Homo sapiens: one gene and its partners. The protein of the gene in region 3 purifies or fractionates together with the protein of the main gene of each other region. This does not show direct contact. Each region holds a gene or a part of one and is shown on either strand. Other genes may lie near its edges.

Region 1 (7,550 bases), on a different chromosome or scaffold from region 3:
ATTGCACTCCAGCCTGGGCAACAAGAGCAAGACTCTGTCTCAAAAAATAAATAAACAAAATAAAATAAATAATAAAAAAAAAAATAGGCTGGGCGCGGTGGCACAAGCCTGTAATCCCAGCACTTTGGGAGGCCAAGGCGGGCAGATCACAAGGTCAGGAGATCGAGACCATCCTGGCTAATTCGGTGAAACCTCGTCTCTACTAAAAATACAAAAAAATTAGCCGGTTGTGGTGGTGGTGGGCACCTGTAGTCCCAGCTACTCGGGAGGCTGAGGCAGGAGAATGGTGTGAACCCGGGAGGCGGAGCTTGCAGTGAGCCGAGACTGCGCTACTGCACTCCAGCCTGGGCAACGGAGCAAGACTCCATCTCAAAAAATAAAAATAAATAAAAAAATAAAAAGAATAAATAAATAAGAAAACAAAATACATGTTGAAGGATATGGAGCAACTGGAACCCTTCTGCACTGCTGGTGAGAATGTCGAATGGTGTGGCTGCTATGGAAAACAGTATGGTGGTTTTTCAAAAAAATTCAACATAGAATTACCATAGATTCAGGAATTCCACTGCTGGGTATATGTCCAGAAAAACTGAAAGCAGAGACTCAAAGAGATATTTGTAAACATTTTAGCATTATCTACAATAGTCAAAAGGTAGAAACAACCCAAGTGTCCATAGACAGATGAACTAATAAACAAAATGTGGCCTATACATACAATGGGATACTATTCAGCCTTAAAAGGGGAGGAAATCCTGACTCATGATACACCATGGATGAACCTTAAGGATATTATGCTGAGTGAAAAGAAGCCAGTCACAAAAGGAAAAATACTGTCTGATTCCACTTATATGAGGTCCCAAGAGTAGTCAAATTCACAGAGGCAGAAAGTACAATGGTGATTGCCAGGGAGAGGTAGGAATGGAAAGTTGTTGTTTAATGAGTGCGAGAGTTTCGGTTAGAGGAGATAAAAAAAGTTCTGGGATGGGGCCAGGCGTGGTGGCACACGCCTGTAATCCTAGCACTTTGGGAGGCCAAGGAGCACAGATCACTTGAGGTCAGGAGTTTGAGACCAACCTGGGCAACATAGTGAGACCCCGTCTCTATTAAAAATACAAAAATTAGCCGGGCATGGTGGCAGGTACTGGTAATCACAGCTACCTGGGAGGCTGAGGCAGGAGAATCGCTTGAACCTGGAAGGTGGAGGCTGCAGTGAGCCAAGATCAGGCCACTGCACTCCTACATAGGCAACAGAGTGAGACTCTGTCTCAAAAAAAAAAAAAAAGAAAATGTTCTGGGAGCGGGGCCACGTGCAGTGGTTCACACCTGTAATCCCAGCACTTTGGGAGGCCAGGATGGGTGGATGGCTTGAGGTCAGGAGTTTGAGACCAGCCTGGCCAACATGGCAAAGCTCTGTCTCTACTAAAAATACAAAAAAATACCTGGGCGTGGTGGTGCATGCCTGTGGTCCCAGCTACTTGGGAGGCTGAGGTGGGAGGATCACTTGAACCTGGGAGGCAGAGGTTGCAATGAGTCGAGATTACACCACTGCACAGAGCCAGACCCTGTCTTAAAATAATAATAATAAAGTTCTGGGATAATGGTTGCACAAAAATGTGAATGTACTTAATGCCACTGAACTGTACACCTAAAAATGATAAAGATGATAAACTTCATATTATGTGTATTTTACAATTAAAAACAAGAAGATGAGCATGGGCCAGCTCATCAGGAGTCTTTTATGCAATGCCTGAGACATCATCTTAAAGACTGGATAGCATCAGGAAAGATTCTGAAGGAGACTCAGGGGTTAAAAGAGAATTCCCTATATCTCAGGACAATGCAGACAGTAGGACAATTGAGAGAGTAAGAATAGAGTTTTGCACAAAACAGGCACTCAATGAATACTGGTGGAATAAAATATCCTCCACTACTACCAATTTATCTTAGGAGAGAAAAGCAAGAACTGTTTTCCAAGACAACGCTGAAACGAATGCGCCCAATCTTTGAGGACTCCGCCTTTGCCCAACAGCTCCTCATTTCTGCTGTGGGCATACGGAGGGCGCTCATTCTCGGGGACAGTTCCCAAGGTACCCCCGCCTTCCATGGCCACACCCCACCACGCCCTGTCCAATTTGCCACCAAATCCCTATCCCTGCTCCAAAAGGCAATCAAATCTCCACCTCCAGTCACTAGGTGGATGACTTAGTGCCACCACTAAATTCTCTTGAGCCAGACTCCTCCGGGAGGTAAAGGAGGGTGGGATGATAATACTCGCCTCTCCCAGCAGCCGTGAGACAGAGGTAATGTACTCACTACCTGGCAGAAAGAGAGTGTTCCCCAACCTGGTTGCTCCCTTGGATACTGAAGGCATCACGCTGTACTGAGATTCTCTCTACACCTGTCTCCCACCCTACCCACCCCAAGAATGTGGGCTCCTGGACGCGAGGATCCATCTCTCCGGGACCTGGAACAGCTGACTTCGCCCGCCAGGCCTCTGGGAAACCCTGGCCGAGGGCTGCTCGAATGCCTCTAGGAACCAGGATTAACGGAAACGAGGCTGACAGCGGGGCACTAGGAACTCCCAGTGTGAGGTTCGCCGCCGCCACCCACAGCCAGAAGAGTCCAGGGTTGCCCGGTGTTTCTCCCAACCCCCTAGAACCCAGAAAGTCTGATTTTGGGGTAAAGCGTCGTACCTTTTAGACGCTAACAACTATCTCAAAAAAGCTTACGGACCAACCAAGACGCTACTACGGCCTTCAGTCGCCCAGTTGAGACCCCTGTACCTACGCCAGACCCGCCGGGGGACTGGGGCGGCATCCCCACCGGCCCTTGGGAGGCCAGGCAGCCACTTACGAAGGATGAGAAGGACGGGAGGAGGATCCTAAGAACATTGCATCCAAACACGAAGCTGAGCACCAGCAACCACGCCCAGTGGTCGGCCGCGGCTGAGCTCATCCCGGACGCTCCTGGCTGTGCTGGGTCCGCTACGGCAGCTCCATGGGGACCACAACAACAGCGGCGACCGCGCCTGCGCGGTGAAGCCAAGCGCCCCAGAACAGGCGCGCCGACGCGCCTGCGAACTGCGTCGCCCTCGCGGGAGGCGGGGCCGTTTTTTCGTCCGGCTCCAGTTGGAGCGGTTAACACGTTCCGGGTTTCTCCTGGGCCTTCGGCGGTTCCGTAGCCTTCTAGCACCCATCCCTACTGAACCAGTTTTCTGACGTCCGTGTTTCTTTTTTTCCTTCTTTTTAAAATTAAAAACCTTCTCATAGTACCAAACTCTGGTTTCAAGTGCTAACGACTCCCTGCTTTTGTCATAATTAGTACTTTCTTTAAATTAACTTTTAATTCTAGATAAGTTTAAGAAAAACTCTTCCATAAATAGAAAACTACCGTTTTTATAGTAGCAGGTAACTGTCGTGTTCCAAGCAGTTACATGGAAAATGCCTTACGTTTTCGTTCCAGATCTAAACACTGTAGTAAGTCTAACCAATTTACACAACTGCATACCTGAAAAATAAGTTTAATAGAATGCACTGTTCACAATCATTAGTAATAGTTAATAAATTAACCTGAATCTAGGTGAAGATCAGGTTTTGCAGCGAAAGAATCCCAACTCAAATGTATGCAAAGTGAGCAGGGCGAGGTGGCTCACGCCTGTAATCCCAGCACTTTGAGAGGCCGAGGCGGGCAGGTCATGAGGTCAAGAGATTGAAACCAGCCTGGCCAACATGGTGAAACCCCGTCTCTACGATACAAAAATTAGCCGGGCGTGGTGGCGCGCGCCTGTAGTCCCAGCTACTCCGGAGGCTGAGGCAGGAGAATCGCTTGAACCCGGAAGACGGAGGTTGCAGTTAGCCAAGATCGCGCCACTGCACTCCAGCTCTGGCGACAGAGCGAGACTCCGTCTCAAAAAAAAAAAAAAGTATGCCTAGTGGATAAAGCAAGACATGTTCAACTGTCTCTTCTGCCATGCTGCCATGACTGGTTTCTGAGGACTAATTCCTAATCAAAATGATGCAAGATTGCGGGTACACTGGCTCACGCCTGTAATCCCAGCACTTTGGGAGATCCAAGCAAGGTGGATCACAGGCCCAGGAGTTTGAAACCAGTCTGGGTAACATAGTGAGATCCCCATCTCTACAATAAAATATAAAAATTAGCCGGGCACTGTGGCACGTGCCTGTGGCCTCAGCTACTAGGGAGGCTGAGATGAGAGGATCGCCTGAGCCTGGGAGGTCGAGGCTGCAGTGAGCTGTGATCACACCACTGGACTCCAGCCTGGGCGACAGAGCACAACTCTGGCTCATTATTATGAACCAGTTAAAATAATTATGCGGCTGGGCACAGTGGCTCAAGCCTGTAATCCCAGCACTCTGGGAAGCCGAGGCAGGTGGACCACCTAAGGTCAGGAGTTCGAGACCAGCCTGACCAACATGGCAAAACCCTGTCTCTATTAAAAATACAAAAATTAGCTGGGTGTGGTGGCGGGCACCTGTAGTCCCAGCTACTCAGGAGGCAGAAGAAGGAGAATCGCTTGAACCTGGGAGGCGGAGGTTGCAGTGAGTTGAGATCGCACCATTGCACTCCAGCCTGGGTGACAAGAGTGAAACTCTGTCAAGAAAGAAAGAAAGAGAGAAAGAGAAAGAGAAAAAGAAAGAAAGAAAGAAAGAAAGAGAGAGAGAGAGACAGAAAGAAAGAAAGAAAGAAAGAAAGAAAGAAAGAAAGAAAGAAAGAAAGAAAGAAAGAAAGAAAGAAAGGGAAAGGAAAGGAAAGAAAGAGAGAAAGAAAGAGAAAAAGAAAAAGAAAAGAAAAGAAAGAGGCTGTGGTTCTACAAATTTCTGTGTCAAGAAAACATGTGAAGCAAAACTATTCTGTAGTGGTAGAGTGAATTCCTTCCCTGAAAGGACTTATTGGTTAAGTGACTTCTGAACTGACCAAAACAAAGAGCAGGAGTCTGGCTCTCCTCCATAGCCTTCCCTTCCACCTGGATGGACCACGCAGCACGGCAGCCAGGCTCCTGGCTCCTCTCTCACTGGAGATTGAGATGGATTTAGAAGGAGAAACTGCCTCTTGAAAAGTGATGACAGGCCAAGCATGGTGGCTCATGCCTGTAATCCCAGTATTTTGGGAGGCCGAGGTGGGTAGATCACCTGAGGTCAGGAGTTCGAGACCAGCCTGATCAACATGGTGAAAACCCATCTCTCCTAAAAATACAAAAATTAGTCGGGCGTGGTGGCGCATGGCACACGCCTGTAATCCCAGCTACTCAAGAGGCTGAGGCAGTAGAATCACTTGAACCCAGGAGGCGGAGATTGCAGTGAGCCCAGATCACACTGTTGCACTCCAGCCTGAGCAACAGAGAGACTCAATCTCAAAAAACAAGAAAAAAAAAAGGAAAAGTGATGACAGCCCCGACCCCACTGGACCCCTTTCACCCGCCCCCAGTCTCTGCCTCTGGCTAAAGAGAAGTCCACTACCACACCCCACTGCCACCTATCTTCAGGAAAAGGATTACCTAATTCCTGGACAGTCGAGAACTCCTAACAAAAAAAAAACCCTGGAGCATGTCCTCAACTTTGCAGCAGCGGTGGGAGAGAAGCAGCAGCACCCGGGCTTCACAGGCAACCCAGTCTGAAGAACTCAACCCTCTCCTGTTGCTTCCTGTGAGCAGCACTTCACAAAAGCACCAACAATGGAAGGCGGAGACCCTCTTCCAACACATGGAAAGCAATGTGAGAGCCAGGGTGTTTCAGCATGAGTCAATCTACATCTAGCACAGGTTAAGATAGTAAACAAAGCTCATAACAAGAACAAGACTGTTCATTTCTTAATGCTGCTGTAACATATTACCATGAACTCAGTGGCTTAACTTTATTATCTCACAGTTCCAGGAGAAAGATACCTGAAATGAGTCTTATTGGGCTAAAAATAAAAGCAAAGCTGAGTTCCTTCTGGTGGTTCACGGGAGAATCCATTTCTTTGCTTTTTCCAGCTTCTAGAGGCTGCCTGCGTTCCTGGTCTTGCATCCCTCTTCCTTGTCAAATCCAGCAGGCACAGTTCTCTGACTCCTGCTTCCATTGTTACATCTTCCCTGGCTCTCCTGCTTCCCTCTTTCACTCTAGAAGAATCTTTGTGATTATACTGGATCCATGTGGCTAAACCAAAATAATCTCTCCATTTAAAATTGTTAACTTAATTACATCTGCAAAGTCCATTTGCCACAAAAAGTAACATATTCACATGTGCTGGGGATTAGGTTGTGGACATGGTGGGGGGACAGTATTCTGCCTACTGTAAATACCATAATCATTCGTGAAAATGAACCAAGATGGCAGCAAGAGAAACTCCACAGAGAAGAAGCCTATTACTGGTTTATTAATGAACATGGTGTTGGTTGCCAGAGGAAAACCATAAGCTTCCAAGCACTACTGGAGAAATAACATCAGTTGCTTCCAATCAATCACTGTTCGATGGATCCAGGCACATGCCCCACCTCAGCCTGACCTGAGAATAGGGTAATTGGGACATATGTCAGAGGCTCAGGAGTCCCTAAAAAAATTTCAAATAGAGAATCTTTTTAAAATGTCTGAACACCTTTTATTGCACATAAAATGCACCTTAAAGTGGACAAGATGGGAACCAAACATTGAAATCTGTGAGTTGAATAAATCCAGTGAAGAGTGTTGGCTTCAGCCAGAAATCAATATAAATCATGAAAATAAGTGGATTTTAAATTCCTGGTCAAAGGCTGGGCACGGTAGCTCATGCCTGTAATCCCAATAGTTTGAGAGGGTTTTGAACCCAGGAGTTCAAAACCACACTGAGCAACATAGCAAGACTTCGTCTCTACAATCAATTAATTCCTGGTCAATGTGATATGGGTATTCAACTCTTAAACCCCAACAGAAATGATGACCTAAAAACAGGTGCTGGCTGGGGGCGATGGCTCACGCCTATAATCCCAGCACTTTGGGAGGCCGAGGTGGGTGGATCACCTGAGGCTGGGAGCTTGAGAGCAGCCTGGCCAACATGGTGAAACCCCATCTCTACTAAAAATACAAAAAATAGCTGGGCATGTTGGCACACACCTGTAATCCCAGCTACTTGGGAAGCTGAGGCAGGAGAATCACTTGAACCCAGGAGGCGGAGGTTGCAGTGAGCCGAGATGGCACCATTGCACTCCAGCCTGGTGACAGAGTGCAACTCAGTCTCAAAAAAAAAAAAAAAAAAAAAAAAAGAATGTTTACTTACAATATAGGAAAGATTAGAAATGAAATTTGGAATCAATAGGCAAGTTCTAGACCTATTGCTCTGCATGCTAATTTACTTAGTGGTTATGCAAGCCAATCAGATAGTAGTGAATTCAGGCAAAAGAAGGAAAACCATTTGGAGAAGCACATATTTGGGGAAAATAGTGCTAGAATCATTATTACAATGAGAAACACAGTTCAGAGACTAGAGCCAACAAGGTTACATTATACCTTAAATAATCAAAGTTGTTGGCCAGGCATGATGGCTCATGCCTGTGATCCTAGCACTTTGGGAGGCCA
Region 2 (7,284 bases), on a different chromosome or scaffold from region 3:
CAGGAATGGAAAGAATGGAGGAAAGAGGAAGAACAAAGACAGACAACCGAGTTGTGGAGGTGAGGGGTAAAAACCACCACAGAATCACTACCCGTTTGTCTTGACCGTGAGATCATTACTGTGCAAACCCTTAAACTAAAGTAACAGCTGTCAAAATACAGACAATAAATTTGGCTTGGCGCGGTGGCTCACACCTGTAATCCCAGCACTTTGGGAGGCCAAGGCAGGCAGATCACATTAGGTCAGGAGTTCGAGACCAGCCTGGCCAACATGGTAAAACCCCTTTTTTACCAAAAATACAAAAAAATAAGCCAGGCATGGTGGTCGCCTGTAATCCCAGCTACTAGGGAGGCTGAAGCAAGAGAATCACTTGAATTCGGGAGGCGGAGGTTGCAGTGAGCCGAGATCGCATCACTACACTCTAGCCTGGGTGACAGAGAGGGACTCCATCTCAAAAAATTAAATAAATAAACTTAATGAAGCTCAGGTTATAGATCCAGGAAAAATAACACGGATGAAAAACAAAAAAAAAACACATGGACATTATATTATCTGTCTGGCATCCAAGGGAGTATGTGTCTAGAGACATCAGTGACCCCTTTCCAAACACAAGATGATACCAGTTTATTTACCAGACTCTCCTGTGATTTCCAAGATTAAAAAATGGCAAAGAAGATGGGGTCTGGTATCAGGTTAATGAAGAAAGACTAAGAAGATAAGAAAGCAAAAAAGGTCCCAGCACAGTGGCTCACACCTGTAATCCCAGCACTTTGGGAGGCCGAGGCAGGTGGATCACCTGAGGTCAGGAGTTCAAGACCAGCCTGGCCAACACGGTAAAACCCTGTCTCTACTAAAAATACAAAAATTAGCCGGGCGTGGTAGTAGGCGTCGTCTGTAATCCCAGATACTCAGGAGGCTGAGGCAGGAAAATTGCTTGAACCCAGGAGGCAGAGGTTGCAGTGAGCTGAGATTGCGCCCCAGCCCTCCATCCTGGGCAACAAGAGCAAAACTCCATCTCAAAAAAAAAAAAAAAAGCAAAAAGAGAAATATTTTTCCTAACTACAAACTGACTCTTGGGAAGTACCAGAGTATTTATATACATCTAATCACAAGTCTATATATGGCTTTCTTATATCCAGGTAATATCACATTTTAGAAAACCATGGACCACCCCACATGCAATTTGTCTCCAAGTATTACAGGAGTAAAGACACAGATAGCTATGTCCAAGGCTTTAAGCTCAAGAGACTCAAGCTATGCCATAAAAATTAGTAATTTCACTCAACAGTCTATCAAGGACCTATCTCCATTATGGGTTCTGATTTCTACCCTTTAAGAACACAGCATAGACCTGACCAATGTCTATCAGTAAGACACACTTGCTTAGGGTTCCTGTGCTGTTTCCCTTCCCAAAGGCCAGAGCCATGCCTGTCCCTTTGGGTTGGGGTCCACCCATGATGATGACACACAGATTCTTCCTTCCTCTGTATTTCCCTCTGCATTAAGTTCTATCCATGTGGAGGACAGAACAAAATCAGCCTCACTCACAAAACATCAGAAAACGTTCTACTGGAATACGAACAAAGGGATCAATAAAAATAAAATCTGAGGCCAGGTGCGGTGGCTCATGCCTGTAATACCAGCACTTTGGGAGGCCGAGGAGGGCACATCACCTGAGGTAAGGAGTTCGAGACCAGCCTGACCAACATGGTGAAACCCCGTCTCTACTAAAAATACAAAAATCAGCTGGGTATAGTGGCACACGCCTATAATCCCAGCTACTCAGGAGGCTGAGATAGGAAAATCGCTTGAACCCAAGAGGTGGAAGTTTCAGTGAGTCGAGATCGCGCCACTGCACTCCAGCCTGGAAGACAGGGCGTGACTCCATCTCAAAAAAAAGAAAAAAAAAGAAAATCTGGTGACCAGAAAATCAAGCTCATCTCTCAGGCTAAGGGGCCTAAACGAGGAAAAGCTAAAGGTGTCTTCCAGAACTAGTGAGGTGTCTCACCTGGGCCCCCACAATAAAGGTACGAGTTTGAGAGTCCAAGGTCTTCACCAACACCTCCAAGCTGTCAGGCTCCTCCACAGCGGTACTGGTACTATCATTAGGCTCCATGGCCGACAGGTCTCTAAAGAAGAACGAAGGAAGGAAGGCCCGCTGTTGCCCAGACCAGAGTGTACCCGAAAGACTCCCTAGCATTAATCCCTGCCCCAATACCTAAAAAGTTTCTCCTGCACACACACACATTCACACCTGTCCCCATCCCCCTTCTGATTCCGGGGCACAGGGAGAGAAACACAAAGGGCAGGAGATCGACGGCTTAGGGAGCTGGAGGACGAGAGGTGGGAGGGGCTCCACGACGCCAATCACAATAAGCAGGGAGCCAGTCAGATTAGGAAGGAAGCACGAGACCAGAGACTAGTGTCATCACCGGTCACGGCAGGACAAGCGCCCCAGAGGTCGGAAAATCCTGGGACAACGCGAAAGCGGTGGTCGCCCCACACTCTGCGGAGAAAGTGGTTTCGCGCACGCGCGCCACGCCCATCGAACCCTCCTAACTCACTATAGACCCGAAACGGCACTCACGGGGCGACAGACCTGCTAGCTGACTGCCCGCGTCTACTGCCTTCCCACGGTGTTCCAGCAGAACGGCACAACTAACCCACAGCCAAACACACACACACACACACACACACACACACACACACACACCCACCACCCCGCGGCTCCGCCCCCGACTTCCCCACGGACCGTCACTTCCGGTCTCCCCCAAACCTGCCACCGACGGCCACTTCCGTTTCCCCGATAGTATTTGGGGATCTCGAAGCGATACTTCCGGCTCCCCCCAGGTCCCCAAGCTTTACTTTTGTGGGGCACGACGAGAAAGTCCGCAGCCCCAAACAGTGAGTTTCTGAGGGCGAGTCGGGCCGGGGCCGGCCTAGGTGGGAGGGAGCCGAGCACCCCGAGGAGCCGCCACCGCTGTCGCCCGGGGGACCGTACTACGCCTGCGTGCGTCGCACTACGGATGCGTGGACACTTAAGCATCGCCCCACCCCCTCCCCCCTCTGGCGGCGTTCACGTCTGTGCGCGCGCTTGAGCGCTAGAAGATTGAGGTGGCTACCGTAAATGCCTGAAAAACAGTCACCAGCTGGGACTCTACCACTGCCTCGAGAGGGGCTATGGACGGTCGTATGGACCTTGGACTTTGGAGATGGGGGATTATGCCACATTCATCTATGTTTAAATCTTGGCAGGCTGATAATTTCAGGCGGCACTGTCCTAGCCAGCTAAAACTCTTCTCCACCCTATTGCCCTCGCTGCGCCCTTTCTTCTGTGCCTCCGGAAGTTACTCTTTCAGTAGGCGTTTGGGGGCGGCACTGGTCAATTTTGTTCTCGGTTGCTTGGTTGGGCTAGATTTCGGTTCTGCCGGGTGGGCGTTTTAAGGGCTGTGGGCGTCACATTCGTCGGTGTGTGGCCAAGGGGACATGACACGTTTTAGGAAAAGTAAACGTGCTACTAAGTTGCACGACTTGTCAAGAAAAGAGGCGCTTCCGAGTTTGAGAATTGGGAGCAAATGGAGTCCGAGTGGACAGAAAGACAAGACCCTGACCGTGGGGAATTTAAAGGCCGGCCAGCGTGCTTCCGAAGGCCGGGGGTGGAGGCATTACCGCCTCTCCGTGCCCTCTTCTCTTAACCTGCCCTGGGCCAAGGGCCTCGGCCCCGCGAAACTGCGAGTCCTCCAGAAAGACACATCGCTGTTGGGGTGTCCAACCTTTCTGGGATTCGTAGTTTATACCCAGGTCCTGGTTATATTTTAGTTAAGAGTTCTAATAAGCAGCTGTTTAATGAGCACTTGTGCCAGCCCATATACTACGGGTTTTGTGTATTATTTTAAAAAGCCTTTTAACGAGCTTTTAACATTTTTTAAGTGAGTACACTTAGACGAACATAAGTGTCAGAATTGACAAATCCAGGCCTACAGGACTCCAGATCGAGCACTTGTACTTTACTGCCCCAATAAAAAGCTGTTAACATTTTAGCTTATTTTTTTGAGAGAGGGTCTCGCTTTGTCGCCCAGGCTGGAGTGCAGTGGCGCAATCACAACTCACTGTAGCCTCTGCCTCCCGAGCCCAACCGATCTTCCCACCTCAGCCTCCCTAGTAGGGACCACAGATGCACACCACCACACCTGGCTAATTTTATTTTTATAGAGATGGGGTCTTGCTATGTTGCCCAGCCTGGTCTTGCAGACTTGGCCTCCCAAAGTGCTGGGATTATAGGTGTGAGCTACTGTGCCTAACCACATTTTAGCTTTTTATTACAAAAATTTTCGGCCGGGCGCAGTGACTCACACTTGGGAGGATGAGGCGGGTGGATCACGAGGTCAGGAGTTCAAGACCAGCCTGGCCAAAATGGTGAAACCCCATCTCTACTAAAAATACAAAAATTAGCCTGGCGTGGTGGCGGGCGCCTGTAATCCCAGCTACTTGGGAGGCTGAGGCAGAGAATTGCTTTGAACCCGGGAGGTGGAGATTGCAGTGAGCCAAGATCGCGCCACTGCACTCCAGCTTGGGCAACAGAACGAGACTCCCATCTCAAAAAAAAAAAAAAAAAAATTCAAACATTACACCAAAATAGAACAGTATTAATAAACTCTAATATACTGGTCACCCAAATTTTGTTTGTTTTTTAACTAAATCGCAAGCCTCAGCCCTCGGCAAATTTTTTGTGGCAGTCCATGGGATATAAATTTATCAAGCTAGGTGTGGTGGCTCATGCCTGTAATCCCAACACTTTAGGAGGCTAAGGTGGGCCGACTGCTTGAGCTCAGGAGTTTAATACCAGCCTGGGGCAACATGGTGAAACTCCGTGTCTACAAAAAATTAGCTAGGCGTGATGGCGTGCACCTATACCTCCTACTCGGGAATCATCTGAGCCGGGGAAGTCAAAGTCATGCCTGGGCGACAGAGTGAGACCCTGTCTTAAAAATAAATAAGTAAATAAATAATCTATCGAGGAAGATCCATCTCTCACAGCATTAACTGCTCCAGTCACTTGGTGCTATCCAAGGACAACCTATTTGGCAATTCTTACTGCCTATTATTTGAGAACTTATTACCCACCAGAAACTAAGTGCTTTGCAAACATTACTATTAATTATAGCAAATATATACTTTGGACTTACCATGTGCAAGTCTTTGCTAAGGGCTTTATGTGCATTATTTCATTTAATCCTATAAGATTGATGATTTGCCAATTTTACAGATGAAAAAACAGACATAGCAGTTAGGGGTTGGTGGTGTTTTGTTTGTTTGGAGACAGAGTCTCTGTCGCCCAAGCTGGAGTGCAGTGGCACAATCAGGGCTCATTGCAGCCTCGACATCCCAGGCTCAAGCAATCCTCCCTCCTCAGCCTCCCTAGTAGCTGGGACTACAGGCGTGTGCCACCACATCGGCTAATTTTTGTATTTTTTGTAGAGACAGAGTTTTGCCATGTAGCCCAGGCTGGTTTTGAACTCCTGGGCTCAAGCCATCCGCCCACCTTGGCCTCTCAAAGTGCTGAGATTACAGGCATGAGCTACCTGCCCTGCCTGTAGTTAGGGTTTGGACACATTCTGCCTGACACCAACATCTATCCTCTCTAACAGCCAGATTACATAGCCTCTTTGTAGTAATAAATGTTGAGTGAATGTGTCAGTGAACACTGCCAGGGTATACATATTTTTCTAATTGTAAACTAAAGAGAGCAATCCACCGTGCCCCAGCACCTGCATCATACCTGTTCTAAAGCATTTACCAAGTTGTATTGCAATGGTTTGTCTACACAGCTAGTTTTCCCTCTAACGACTTCTTCAAGATCAGGGGCTATGTCTTATTCGTTTTTTTATGTCCCCGGGGATTAGCTAGTTCTTGGGAAACAACTGGGACTTGGGATTCAAAACAGTTTGCTAAGTGAATGAATGAGAGGCCCAGTCAAGCTACTTCCCTTCAGTGCTGCACAGTGCAACAAATAACCAGCTCAGATACAGGTTCAAAGACCACAGGCTTCTCCCTGGACAGCTCAGCTCTCCTCATAACTCCTGAGAAACCCTGGACATGCCAGGGTGTACTATGGAGTGGTTGCATCCGGAAGAGGGGGAGGAAGTCCCAAACACTAAGTAATCCAGGTTTGGGTTGGAAAACAAGGTTGAAGTTACTCATTAGCAGGTGAAAGGGTCAAGGGTCGAACGCAAGGGAGCTGAAAGCAGAGTGGACTGAGCAGCCAGTAGGGGAGAGAGCAGTTAAGGCACACAGAGCACCAGCTCCCTCCTGCCTGAAGATGTTCCACCAAATTTGGGCAGCTCTGCTCTACTTCTATGGTATTATCCTTAACTCCATCTACCAGTGCCCTGAGCACAGTCAACTGACAACTCTGGGCGTGGATGGGAAGGAGGTATGGACTGAGATTGGGGGAAGCCTATGGTGGAGGCTCTGAGGGACTTGGGTGGATGGCCTAGGATGACTGGAGACCATCTTGGGAAAGGAAGAGAGGAAGGGGGTGTGAGTGTTGTGATAATGAAAGCAAGAAGAAAAATATCAGTACTGTGGCCATCAATGCAGAGGCATGGCAGAATTGGGGGGTGGGGTGGTTACCCAGGTTGACTGGGGAGGGGCAAAGAGGAAAAGTCATTTAATGACTCTTTGTCATGGATCCAATCCCCAGTTGGAAAGAGGAAGGCAGCCAACACCTCTACCCCTAAATCTTGCTGTTTTGACTGATGAAGAGGTTGAACCCATCCTGTGCTGGAACCCACCCTCTTTTGCTCCCTTCATTGTCTCTCCAGTTCCCAGAGGTCCACTTGGGCCAGTGGTACTTTATCGCAGGGGCAGCTCCCACCAAGGAGGAGTTGGCAACTTTTGACCCTGTGGACAACATTGTCTTCAATATGGCTGCTGGCTCTGCCCCGATGCAGCTCCACCTTCGTGCTACCATCCGCATGTGAGTGGTAAGGAGGCAGAAGCATCACTGGGTTCAGTCTCTGCCCAAAGTGTGAGAATCCACCCACCAAGAGCTGGCCTCTTAGCTGGTATATCTACTATGCTTGGCCCACGGAATTCAGTGGCTGTATTAATTGCCCTCTGGAGAAAGATGTGCCTAACCAATGCTTGGTAGCTTGAAACCCAAGGAGAGCTGGGCTTCAATAACAAATACAATGGAGTAAATAGAAGCCGGGACAGGCCAGACGTGGTGGCTCACGCCTGTAATCCCAGCACTTTGGGAGGCTGAGGCGGACAGATCACGAG
Region 3 (6,895 bases):
TTTTAGTAGAGATGAGGTTTCACCGTGTTAGCCAAGATGGTCTCAGTCTCTTGACCTTGTGATCTGCCCGCCTCAGCCTCCCAAAGTGCTGAGATTACAGATGTGAGCCACCGTGCCCGGCCTTTATTATTTTTTTGAGACAGAGTGTTGCTCTGTCGCCCAGGCTGGAGTGCAGTGGCGCGATCTCAGCTCACTGCAAGCTCCGCCTCCGGGGTTCACGCCACTCTCCTGCCTCAGCCTCCTGAGCAGCTGGGACTAAAGGCGCCTGCCACCATGCCCAGCTATTTTTTGTATTTTTAGTAGAGATGGGCTTTCACCGTGTTAGCCAGGAGGGTCTTGATCTCCTGACCTTGTGATCCACCCGCCTCGGTCTCCCACAGTGCTGGGATGACAGGAGTGAGCCACTGCGCCCAGCCAATTTTTTTTTTTTTTGAGACGTGAGAAAACCTCGTCTCTACTAAAAATACAAAAATTAGCCGGGCATGGTGGTAGGCACCTGTAATCCCAGCAACTCCGGAGGCTGAGGCAGGAGAATCTCTGCTTCCTGGGTTCTAGCGATTCTCCTACCTTAGCCTTCTGAGTAGCTGGTATTACAGGCACCTGCCACCATGCCCAGCTAATTGGTTTATATTTTTAGTAGTGATGGGGTTTCACCATGTTGGCCAGGCTGGTCTCAAACTCTTGACCTCAAGTGATCCGCCCACCTTGGCTTCTCAAAGTGCTAGGATTACAGGAATGAGCCACCATGCCCAGCCCTCACACAGCTTTAAATGCCACCCTTGAGACAGTGACTTCCAAATCAATGCCAACCTCCTCTGGGCTCCAGACTCACATAAACAAGCTACTGTCATGATGTTTACACTTGGATTTCCAGTGGGCAACTCAGATTCACTGTGGACAAAATGAAATTCTTTATTTGTTCATTCTAAACCTACTCCTTTCCTAGTTTTCCCCATCCCAGCTGCTCAGAGAGACAAGAAAGACATGTAATCAATTCATTTCTTTTTCTCACCCAAGTAATCTTACTGGTTTACTTCCAAAATACATCCCTGGTGCGATGTGGTGGCTCATGCCTGTAATCCCAGCACTGTGGGAGGCCGAGGCAGTCAGATCACTTGAGGTCAGGAGTTTGAGACCAGCCTGGCCAATATGGTGAAAACCTGTCTCCTAAAAAAAACAAAATTAACAGGCAGTGGTGGCGCAAGCCTGTAGTGCCAGCTACTCGGGAGGCTGAGGCAGGAGCATTGCTTGAACCTGGGAGGCGGAGGTTGCAGTCAGCCTAGATCGGGTTACTGCACTCCAGCCTGGGAGACAGAGGAGTCTTGAGTGTCTAAAAAAAAAAAAAACCTCAAGTCTGACTACTTCTCCCCCAACATTCTGCCTCCACCAGAGTCCAGGATGTTGTCATCTCTCAACTGGTTACACCCCCAATCTCCTTGTTAGTTTCCCTGCTTCTACCCTGACTGACAATTAAATCTCCACCTGGCCGTCAAAGGGTACTTTTCAAACATGAATTTGGCCACGACATTGCCCTGCTTAAAACAAACAGCTTCCCGTTAATAACCTGGAGTCAATGCCAAACTTCTTAGTGGCCCATAAGGTCCCACACCATGTGGCTCTGATTGGTCTCTCCAACTTCTCCTTCCCCTACCCTGGCTCACTAAGCTTCAGGCACTCTGGTGTGCTTCCTGCTCTGCAATTCCTCATTGGTTCCCTTGTGAGTATGTTGAGGAAGGAGTGAAACACGAGAGACACAGGATATAGAGTGGATAGGACACGGTGGCTGCTGGTGTGTGCGCACAAGAAAGGCTGGAAGAGGCTTTTCCCAGAAGTGGGGGCTAAGCCCTGTTCCACTCACCATAGCAAAGAGGTTGTCATAGCCTTTGACCTTGGTAGGCACCTTTGAGAACTTCTGGTCAAAAGCATCTGAGATGTTGTGTGCTGGGTCTGTGGAGATGATCAGAACACTCTCACGCCCCTTGGAGAGCTGGACTGCCAGGCTGCAGCTGAGTAATGGAAAAGTCAAAAGATAGGGGATGAGGGGATGGGCTCTGTTCCCTGGGTCTGCAAGGGGAGTGGTAGGTTCCCTGGAGCAGGTGACCCGAATCAGCAGGGGCCTTGAGAGGAGAGTATGGGTTATGGTGGGATTGAGCCTCAGTCCCTACAAAGGAACCCTCTCTGATTTATCTCCTGACCCCTCTATGTGGACTAGAGAGGTAAGGTTCAGCTGACTGAGTCTGTCTGGCCTAGTGCCTGCTTCTTTTTTGCTGGGCACAGTGGCATGGCCCAGCGGTCCAGCCAGCATAGCTTGACTCCGTGCCCCCTTCCTTAATAAGCTAAGGGGTCTCCTGCATTCCCTAGTAAGCACAGGATGGTTCAGTCTGCTTGTCCAGGATAATCTGTCCAACGGACACCTCCTGCCTGTAGCTGCCTGGGACAGTCTCATCACGTGCTCTCTCCCTCGCTTTCCACCCTCACTCTCGCCTTGGGCATAAAACACCAAGGTTCACCAAACTAGGATTGCTTGTTCTGGTGCCGCCCTCACCCACAACTCTGGATTCACTCAGGTACGGTCCAGCTGATGGGGATATCTAAGTGCTTCCCCGTCCCCCGGGCGCTGAGTTCACTGTGGTTCGGCACTTGAGCCCCAACACGGATGGTCCAACTCAGAGGGTGCTAGGGCTGCATTGAGGTCTTTCTCATTTGCTCCAGGTAACTTCCAGAGAGTGAAACCCAAAGACCCCCGCCAGCCCCCATGCCCCGGTCGTGGTGGAAAAGCCGGTCCTTGGCCTCCCCTTCGCCCAGTGGTATATCCTACACGCCTCCTGGCCCCCGCCGCAGCCTCCTTACCTGCAGGTGGTCTTGCCCACACCACCCTTGCCCCCGACGAAGATCCACTTCAGGCTGCGCTGCTCGATGATGTTGCTAAGTGTAGGCTCCAGCGGCTCCACATCAGGAGCATCTTCGAACTCCTCTGCCTCAACCCCCCACCCGGCCACCCCTGCCGCCATTTTGGAACTGGCTCACGTGATCCAGCGGAGCGCACCATACGAAGAACCTACAGGGGAAATTCTCTATCACATTCCTAGCGAAGCTAGGAGCATGAGTTAATTTCCTCATTACTTGCCTTTTAGGAGAAATATAAATTATATTTTCACTATTCTTTGCTTCCAGGGTTCACTTTGTCAACCTCTGGTCTATAATTTTCCAAGGGTTCCCCCTACCTAATGAACACATCGGTACGGTCTAGGCTACTCCCTTTCACTGATTGGGCCCTAGGTCTTGCAGCTCTCCTTTCATTGGCTATGTCTTTTCTTACTTACACCAATCACTCTTATGTTCCGGTAGCGCCAACCTCACCTTAGCAACCAGCCAAACACCCAGTCCATGCCCTTTCGGTGAAGTTAGATTCCCGGTCCTCCTTGGCCTGACTCCATAGGCTCAACTTTATGTCCATCATTTTCCCTCTATTCTTCACGGTAGGTCCCAACCTCACCTCAGGTCCGCCCCCTCTGTTATTCAATAGGCTGTGAGCCTCTTGGCTCTTGCCGCAAACCAATCATAGACGAATTGACTCGGTTGGCGATAGGTCCCCGGGCTGATAGTGGCTTAGAGTGGGCGAGTCCACAGAGTCTTGTCCTGTACGCCCTGATCTCCCATGCCTAGCAGACACCATTCCTGCAATTGCGCTCCGTTTCGTAGAAGGAATTCCTAAAAGTCTCCTTGTATTTCAAGAGAAGACTCCAGTATACCATATTTCATGTTTGAACCTCTGTCTTAGAGCAGGAACAGAAGCTGGGTTCCAGGCCCTTGATGGAGACCCCAGCCCATGACACTCTTAACTTTAGAGGGAGACTACAGACTAGAAATAACCCCGACTTCATCTGAATACTACAGCTCATAAAATAAGCTGATTCTCGGGCCGGGCGCGGTGGCTCACGCCTGTAATCCTACCACTTTGGGAGGTTGAGGCGGGTGGATCACCTGAGGTCAAGAGTTCGGGACCAGCCTGGCCAAGATGGTGAAAACCTGTCTCTACTAAAAATACAAAAATTAGCCGGGCGTGGTGGCACGCGCCTGTAATCCCAGCTACTTAGGAGGCTGAAGCAGGAGAATCGCTTGAACCCGGAGGGCAGAGGTTGCAGCGAGCCGAGATTGCGCCACTTCACTCCACTCCAGCCTGGGTGAAAGAGTGAAACTCCGTCTCTAAATAAATAAATAAAATAGGCTGGGCGCGTTGGCTCACGCCTGTAATCCCAGCACTTTGGGAGGCCGAGGCAGGCAGATCACGAGGTCAGGAATCGAGACCAGGTTGAGGCAGAAGAATCGCTTGAACTCGGGAGGCGGAGGTTGCAGTGAGCCGAGATCACGCCACTGCACTCCAGCCTGGGCGACAGAGAGAGACTCCGTCTCAAAAAATAAAATAAAACAAAATAAAATAAAGTAATAATAACAATAATAAAATAAAAAAGTAAGCTGATTCTCAGACGGGGACTTCAGCTCCACAGAGCCAGCTATGTCCCCAACAAATGTGAGCTTTATCCCAGAGATGGTTACCCAACCCAAAGATACCCCTATTTCTACTTGGGGGGCCCAGACTAGACATGCTCTCTATTCCCCAGTTAGGGATTCAAGTTCCCAGGTGTCAGCTGAGCACACAGCCCCAGATGAGGTCCTTCCACTCATAGAGATTATTCTTGGTGTCGTCAGACGGGGATTCTAGCCCTGGAAAGCGAATCTGTTCCTAGCCCCAAGTGAAACCAACTCCAGAGAGCAAGCTACAGCCCCAGTCTCAGACGACAGTCTCATTCTCCGGGAGCCCCTGTATGGGGAACTCCAGCCTGAGTACTGCTGAATTTTGAAAACCCGAGAGGCAGGGCTCGGTGGCTCACGCCTGTAATCCCAGCACTTTGGGAGGCTGAGGTAAGAGGACTGCTGGAGCCTAGGAGTTTGAGAACAGCCTGGGCAACATGACAAAACCCCGTCTCCACAAATATAAATAAATAAATAAATGAATAAATAAAATTAGCCAGGCGTAGTGGCGCATGCCTGTGTTTCCAGCTACTCGGGAGGCTGTGGTGGGAGGATCGCCTCAGCCCTGAGAGGTCGAGGCTGAAGTGAGCCCTGATCATGCCTTTGCACTCCAGCCTCGGAGACGGAGTGTGACTCTGTCTCCAAAACAAGACAAAAAACCAAAAACCAAAACAGCAAGACTGGGCCCGATGGCTCACGCCTGTAATCCCAACACTTTGGGAGGGGAGGCCAAGGCAGGAGGATCGCTTGAGGCCAGGAGTTCGAGACCAGCCTGGGCAATATAGCCAGGCGCCCGTCTCTAATTTTTAAAAAACAAGGCCAGGCGCGGTGGCTCATGCCTGTAATCCCAGCAGTTTGGGAGGCCGAGGCGGGCGGATCACCTGAGGTCGGGAGATTACCAGCCTGACCAACATGGAGAAATCCCGTCTCTACTAAAAATACAAAATTAGCTGGGCGTGGTGGCGCATGTCTGTAATCCCAGCTACTCGGGAGGCTGAGGCAGGAGAATCGCTTGAACCTGGGAGGTGGAGGTTGTGGTGAGCCGAGATCGCGCCACTGCACTCCAGCCTGGGAAACAAGAGGGAAACTCCGTCTGAAAAAAAAAGAAAAAAAAAAAACGAAACAAAAAAACCCGCGAGACGGGGGCTCCTCCCCCTAGCCCCGCCCCTTCGGGTTGGTTCCCTCATTCGCCCCGCCCCCGCTGCGGGCGCTGGAGGGCCTGACCGCTCTTCCCGGCATGCATTGTTCGGGACGAGGCGAGTCGGGCGCCAAGCGCGGGGCCGGAGCGGCCTTCCCGGAGTCCTTTGCGCGGCACCTGGCGACAAAATGGCTGCCCGAGGGAGACGGGCGGAGCCTCAGGGCCGGGAGGCTCCGGGCCCCGCGGGCGGTGGCGGTGGCGGGAGCCGTTGGGCTGAGTCGGGATCGGGGACGTCGCCCGAGAGCGGGGACGAGGAGGTGTCGGGCGCGGGTTCGAGCCCGGTGTCGGGCGGCGTGAACTTGTTCGCCAACGACGGCAGCTTCCTGGAGCTGTTCAAGCGGAAGATGGAGGAGGAGCAGCGGCAGCGGCAGGAGGAGCCGCCCCCGGGTCCGCAGCGACCCGACCAGTCGGCCGCCGCCGCTGGCCCCGGGGATCCGAAGAGGAAGGGCGGTCCGGGCTCCACACTTAGCTTCGTAAGGAGCCGTGGGGGTGGGGGCGGGCGCCACGGCCTGTCTTGGCAGCGGGAGTCGGGGCCCGTGAAGGGGGATCGGGACCGAAGTCCACTTTCCGTTCTGAATGAGGGGCCCGTCCGGGTCACCCGCTGAGGGTGTGGAACTTGGATTCCCGACAACTGGGGTCTAGGGGCGGGAGTGGGGACTCCAGGAGCTTGCCCGTGGGAACTGGGAGCTGAGGAATTGCCTAGGAATCAGCACTGTGGAGAATGAGGAAACGTGGATATCAGGATTCCTGTTTGAGTGGTACCCGGACCTTGGGTCATGGGACCACCACTAATTGTGAGGAAAGGGAGTAAATTTAAGTCTGGACTCTGAGCTATATGTGTTAGACTCAGACCACGTACTATGTAAGGACAATTACTTATCTAGGACAATTGCTTGACTTCCTTGTATCTTATTCGACCAACCTCCATTTATTGAGCAATTTACCTCGTGCTAGGCATTGTGCTAGGTGCTGGTATGCAGTGGTGAGCTTACAGACAAGATCGCTGCTTTCCTGGAGCCTCTGGGTTTGCCTACCCTCATTTTCCCTAGTTGCAAAAATAGACATCATAGCATCTCTTGATGTGGTGAGGGTTTTATGAGGTGATCCTGGAAAAGTGGTTAGCACAGAGCCTGTCTTCCAGGAAGGGCTAAACTGGTGGTTCTC

Evidence for each region. The genes of interacting proteins can lie anywhere in the genome.
Region 1: the proteins of GET3 (region 3) and GET1 purify together in Homo sapiens (co-immunoprecipitation; 3 studies listed by BioGRID and IntAct, with this or other methods). This does not show direct contact.
Region 2: the proteins of GET3 (region 3) and BAG6 purify together in Homo sapiens (co-immunoprecipitation; 5 studies listed by BioGRID and IntAct, with this or other methods). This does not show direct contact.

What each region holds. Positions count from the first base shown.
Region 1 is NC_000021.9:39,375,790-39,383,339, reverse strand, and holds the start of GET1 (guided entry of tail-anchored proteins factor 1), read right to left. Parts: upstream 3,015-7,550; 5' UTR 2,956-3,014; coding exon 2,854-2,955; exon of another isoform or gene 2,818-2,853; coding exon of another isoform or gene 2,788-2,817; exon of another isoform or gene 2,419-2,787; intron 1-2,418. Other genes in the region: GET1-SH3BGR (WRB-SH3BGR readthrough), read right to left, coding at 2,854-2,955. UniProt on the Homo sapiens protein: Required for the post-translational delivery of tail-anchored (TA) proteins to the endoplasmic reticulum (ER).
Region 2 is NC_000006.12:31,649,648-31,656,931, forward strand, and holds the start of BAG6 (large proline-rich protein BAG6), read right to left. Parts: upstream 3,015-7,284; 5' UTR 2,777-3,014; exon of another isoform or gene 2,753-2,776; intron 2,744-2,752; exon of another isoform or gene 2,588-2,743; intron 2,525-2,587; exon of another isoform or gene 2,219-2,524; intron 2,130-2,218; 5' UTR 2,117-2,129; coding exon 2,009-2,116; intron 1-2,008. Other genes in the region: APOM (apolipoprotein M), read left to right, coding at 6,320-6,433, 6,825-6,979. UniProt on the Homo sapiens protein: ATP-independent molecular chaperone preventing the aggregation of misfolded and hydrophobic patches-containing proteins.
Region 3 is NC_000019.10:12,733,622-12,740,516, reverse strand, and holds the start of GET3 (ATPase GET3), read right to left. Parts: upstream 3,021-6,895; 5' UTR 3,012-3,020; coding exon 2,851-3,011; intron 2,007-2,850; coding exon 1,859-2,006; intron 1-1,858. Other genes in the region: TRIR (telomerase RNA component interacting RNase), read left to right, coding at 5,860-6,204.